Linked DNA regions of Homo sapiens: region 1 is linked to region 2. Evidence: fine-mapped expression QTL. A gene starts in region 2. The other region holds a variant in brackets. All regions are shown on one strand. Distances are between the middles of the regions. Region 1 overlaps KDM4C (lysine demethylase 4C). Region 2 holds the start of KDM4C (lysine demethylase 4C).

Region 1 (2,923 bases), 220 kb after region 2:
GATATCTTTGTGAGGAAATTTCAGCCAGACAGATATCAGCTTTGGAAACAAGGAAAGGATATATACACCATTGATCACACGAAGCCTACTCCAGCATCCACCCCTGAAGTAAAAGCATGGCTGCAGAGGAGGAGGAAAGTAAGAAAAGCATCCCGAAGGTAATGACCCCTCACCCCACTGACCTGCCTTGCCTGTCGTGTTTTCTCAGTTAAAATGGGTCATTGGATGTGGCAATTTACTTGCTTTTTCTATTTATTCATCATAACTTAATACCTTTCTGAAAATGTGAGACATTATTTTTAATTCTTAGGTGTGTAATAAATACAATATAGGAAGAGATGTATATTTATTTTGTTTGAGAATATTCCTGAAGTTGCTCGACATGGCAAATAGAACAATATAGAACTTGTTAGACCACTTACATGAATGTGTTTTATGGTTGTATTATTCCTTTCTGTGCATTTCCATATTTTAATCAATAACTTGATTTTCCACTTTTTCATTTTGCCACCATTTTGCTTTTTGGCTTTAGTGGTTATCTTCTTCATTTGTCCAACATCTGAGCTACTGCTCTCTTCTGGATGCTTATATTTTACTACATTTTATGCACATGGTTTTATTCTTTTGTAAGATGTAAAACACAGCATATAGCATTTCTGTAACATGCTTATCCTTGTGAACTTTATTCTCCATTCCATCTTTGTGGCCAGGATCATTTCAAAAGCTTTTAGATGTGCTGTGGGCATCTTGTTGTTTTAAAACCTATTGAATAGGGTGTGTGTGGTGTTGCTCAGGTCCTTAGGCTACCTTTTAAGGGTCTTATGTTTTCCAATTTTATGTTAAATTTTCCTCTTCAATATTACTCATTGTTTTTCTTTCAGATTATAAAAGTAATATTTGTGCATTGGAGGAAATTTGTAAAATAAGGAAAAGAATAATGAAGGAATCCCATATCACTCATAACCTCACTATCCAGAGATAACCAGTATTAACATTTTGTATATATCCTTTACCTATATATTTATTATATATTTTATAATATTATATATCTTTCCAAAATTGGGGCCATGCTCTGTTAATAATCTGACAATCAGTTTTGAGTGTTTTTTTCATGTAACTGATTGATTTGCTGCAACAT[G/A]ATTTTTAATGCCTGCATGTATTTAATCCCCTGTAGCTTGTGTCCACTTTTTTGATATTAACTAAGTAACACCATAATTTTACATCTTTGCCCAGACTTATGATGCTTATTTTCTGTCTTTTTTTTTTCCCTGATATTTATTTTCTGCTTATTTAGAGTGGTAGTGAGTGGAAGAACCTTAGGAACATGGAGTCAAACTTCGGCATCTTATAAGAGGTAGACCTGAGGTGCAGAACTAACTCAGGTGTTGATATTTCCCCCTGTAGTTTACCGCAATGATCGTCAAAGTGTTTGTTAGTAGGTCAGGACCAACATTTTAAAATGAGGTGGTAAAATAGAATAAAAAGTATTATAGTGCTTCCTCTGTGGTAAGGGCAAATATTCACTCATGACATGTGTGAGTATGTGTGTATGTGTGTATATAGTGTCACTATCTGAAATATATAACTCACTGTGGGTTACATTCAAGAAAAGTTTGAGAAATACTAATTTGGACAGTCAGTGTCTTTGATAACTGTGTTAATTCACAGCACTAAAGAAGCCAGCGCTGGAAGGAGGCAGTATCCAATCCTGAGTTCAGAATACACACCAGGAGAACATCTTGAGCATTGTTCTGTCATGGATGGAAAACACAATATTTTCATTAGGTGTATGACTTGGTTTCCAGGTATTAACCACAGTGGGCCTTTTGGGTTGATAGAGAACATGGATTTATGACACTTGAACAGATCAAAATGCTTGTCAGTAGGTTCAAATAATCAATGGAACTTGCTCACCTACTTAGAAAGCCTGACTATGGGCTTGTTTAATATGCTCAGCCTTGTGGCTTGATATTTAGAGATTATTGATCTCCCTTTGGAAATAGCCCATTTAGGGAAGTCTGATGAAGGGAATGATTCATTGATGTCTCAAGCACATGTCAGCCTTCTTTTTTTCACATATACTACACTGTTTATAATGTTGAGATTTTCCCACATCAGCCAATGCATGGATTTGCAACAAAAGCAATGATGGTGATGATCATACTACTGCAGTTACTGCCATCAGTAGCAGTGAAAGCTAATTTATATAGGTTATCGCAGGCCACCCTATTCTCTGCCCTCCCTGACTTCCTACAGTGCTTAGTCCTGTGGTGGTTTCTTGTGTGTGTATAATACATATGGGTGTGTTTTGGACACTGTTGCTTTGAGTTGATTTGTAATTGTTCCTAATTGTTAGGAATGTTTGTTTCATATGTAAAAAGCATATATGCCAAAGCTATCAAGTGACCTGCTGGAAAATACTCAGGAAGAAGATAAAAATTGTGTTCACTCTGAAAATAGTATGTTGATGTACGATGTTAAATACATAAAATTAGGCTGAATGTGGTGGCTCATGCCTGTTATCCCAGCACTTTGGGAGGCAGTGGGGGAGGATCACTTGAGGCCAGGAGTTCTAGACCACCCGGGACAATATAGTGAGACAGTGTCTTTATGACACACACACACACACACACACACACACACACACACACACCAGTTAGCCTGTGTCTGTTTTAAATCCTTTCGCTATTGATGAATTGGCATTTAATTTGAACTATTTTCATACATACCTGACAATTATACAAAACTCAATGAAAAGTAGTCAGTAGTTTACCTTGAAATATAAAAAATTTACTTTTAGCACTAGCCTAACAGGATATTCTGATTTTTATTTATTTTCTTCATTTTCTAAATATTTTATTTATTGATTTTATTTCTGTCTCATTTCAACATTTTTTACTTTATTTTTATTTTCAGACTTTTA
Region 2 (2,923 bases):
TGGTGACCCAATAATCCCGTTAGCCTTAGCTCAATTAATCACATTCCATCTGTCCTCACAATGTTCACCCCAGTGAGAAACGAGTTCAAGCGCGTGGTAAGCGGTGTCGATATATTTTTAAAATTCTGTTATCAGTATAATGTAACAGAAAATTCAGCATATTAGCCCAACTTTGCTCACTGGTGTGAAGATATGCCCAATCTTTCTTAGCTAAGACGTTAGAGAAAACGCCACAAGGGACCCAGCTGGGAGCTCTGTAGGAAGTTTAAAAAAAAAATCATTCAGCTTTGCAAAACATCTGATGCTCAACCATCTGTCTTTGGCAGTACAGGGGCTTAAGGTCTGGTTGGTTCCTTCTGACACCTCGGAAGGCGGAGTTACAGAGGAAAAGCAACAAGTTGTAGGAAGTTAACTTATCTAGTCTCAGACGCTGGAGGCACCTGCATTTCTAGTCACTTCAGTTCTGGCCAAACTGTTATCAACTCTAGTTTCTGAGGGACCGCCAGCCCAGGATTCCTATTGGGGTCACCTTTGTGCCTCCCTATCTTAAGAGCACACTTGGGCGGGTCGGGGCGGGACGTGCTGGGTGTAGGTGACTCAACACCGGACAGTTTTGCTTCCAGAGGCTGACACGCTCCTGCGCGGTAGTTGTTAAAGGGTTGGGACACGAAGATACTCTTCGCCTATTCGGGATCTCCCATTGTGGGAAGGAGGCTCAGTGGTCCCGGCCACCGGGTGAAGGGAGAACGGGAACACAGCGCTGTCATCGCCGGAGAGCTGCGAGCCCCGACTTTCTCGCCAGGCTCTCCAGTACATTCCGAGGCTCCACCCCGGTAACGCCACGCTGACGTCCGCGCGTCGGAGGCCGCCATAGGTGCGCGTCGGCGCCCAGGAGGACGTGTGGCGCGTGGACTACATCAGGTCCAGCCCTGCGGGACCCCAGCCAGCGCTTCCGGGCAAGGTTCTGTGCACCTGTTTTCTCCTTCTACGCGAGTATCTTTCCCCTCCGGAAAGAATGGGATATGCCTGTGTCCAAAGGACAAGAAGATGCGCGCCAGCAAGCCTAAGTTAACCACAGCGCGGAAGTTGAGCCCAAAGCAAGAGCGTGCCGGGCACCTTTAAGCTGTTTGTAAGCCCACGTGACTCACCAAGTGCGGGCCCCAGCGGTCACGTGACGGCGCGCGCGCCCTCGCGCAGGGAGAGCCGGCGGTGCGCGCGCCTTCGCCGCTGCCTCCCACCCACCCCCTCGACGGGAGGGTGAGGCGCGGCGCAGTGATCGGGCGGCCGGGGTCCTGTGCGCGTGCGCAGCGAACAGCTGTCACCTAGTGCGGAACAAGTCTCCCAAATTTCCCAAATCTCCCTGGGCCGGAGGCCACTGTCTTCTCTTCCTCCTCCACCGAGTCGTGCTCTCGCCCCAACCCGCGCGCCAGGTAACCGCTTTTCCGGAGTCTGGGGGCCAGGGCGGGGGGAGGGTCCGGAGAGGTCTTCCCGGCACTGCCCCCCTCCGCGTGGGGCACGGGGGTGCGGGCGTCCGGGCGAGCGGCGACGCTGGGGCAGAGACGCTCCGTCCGTGACTGCAGCGACTGTCAAGCTGGGGAGGGAGCGGCCGGCCGCGGCCGCAGGGGAGGGATGCGGGGGCCGGTGACAGCCCGCTCCGGCCCTTACCGAGGTTCGGTACCCGCGCTCGCCGTTTTCCCGGGATCCGGAGTCGGGGTCGCCTCCTTGGGGCAGAGGAGCGCTCGGGCGGTCCTGGGATGCGGACCTCTTAACGCCGCCAGTCGGCTGTGGCGGACTCCAGGAAGGCCGGGCCTGGTGCACCCCTCGGGGCCCTCCCTTCCCTGGGAGTGTCACGACCCGCGGGGTGAGGGTGGGAGCTCCTCTCCTGACCACCCGTTGCAGGCAGTCATCCCGTCATTCGGGGTCGTCTTCAGCCCTCGCGGCTGTCCTTTTGGTGTTTCTTTCCCCCGGCATGGGGCCATTTCTTCCTGCAGTGCCTGGAGGAACCATGATGCGGTGTAGACGGCGGGTGCTTAAATAAATGCGAGTTGGATTAGGGCGCGTGGACTGCCAGGCACAGAACGTGGCGTGGAGTGGGGACGTGGAGGAGGGAGCCAGACAGGCCGGGGCTGTAGGCAGGAGCTTGGGGTTTTCCTCTGTGCTCCGCCAGTAAAGCCAGCAGCCGGGATTCAGATGCTTTCCGCGTGGACTTGATGCTGGGCTCCCCCTTTGCTGCGCGGTGCAAGCCTGCGCTGGCTGGCTCTGATTGTGGGCAATACTACCGGGAGGGGTTTTGTCAGGTTCCTTCTTCCGGAAGAGACAAGGTAAACTTTTTTTTGCGCTTGATAAACTAACCCCGAGAGGTGATTTATAAAGCACTGTTCGGAAATGTAGGTTAGAAAAGCAGAGTCACTTTTATCCTGGTGAAAGTTACTAGTAGGTTCCGGCCACTTAGGTTCACACTAAACTCTGCCCTATTTTCACCCATTTCAGTTTGCGGTATTTAAAAAAATGTCTAAATTCCGGGCAGCTTGGCTTTACTGTTTCTATGGCAACGGTGACTAATATTCTCATTTCGAAGTGTTGTGGTTGAAAACTAGTGGTTTTAATTTTTAAAGGTCCATTTTTTATTAGGAAGCAGTCGGCTCTGCTTTGCGATTATCGCTTGCTTTCTTACCTTGCTGGCCTCCGCGCAACCCGCCCATAGTTTGTTTTGGAACGGATTACACGGTTGTTCGGGTTTTTTAGGTGCTTTTTCTCCCAATTTCAGTGTTATGAAAAGTTTTCACATAAGCTTTACAGTATCCCGCAAACTTGGTAATACAGTACAATTTAAACCGAAGACTTATTTCTTTTTATTAACAGACTTTAGTCAGTTGCTTTTCTAAAGTTGAAAATCAGACCCGGCGCCGTGGCTCCTGCCTGT

The links. PIP is the estimated chance that this variant, and not a neighbour inherited with it, causes the effect.
Region 1: its variant is fine-mapped to the expression of KDM4C in thyroid (GTEx, PIP 0.93).

Annotation. Positions count from the first base shown.
Region 1 is chr9:6,980,961-6,983,883 of GRCh38, forward strand. KDM4C (lysine demethylase 4C) reads left to right here. Exons shown (of 22, transcript NM_015061.6): 9 at 1-158. Among named protein-coding and RNA genes, the nearest start is that of KDM4C, 220 kb to the left of the region's middle. The variant G/A (reference allele first, on the strand shown) is at 1,139.
Region 2 is chr9:6,756,774-6,759,696 of GRCh38, forward strand. KDM4C (lysine demethylase 4C) reads left to right here and starts at 1,200. Exons shown (of 22, transcript NM_015061.6): 1 at 1,200-1,430. RefSeq lists enhancers at 1-2, 734-1,093, 2,294-2,513 and silencers at 1,134-1,373, 1,464-1,633.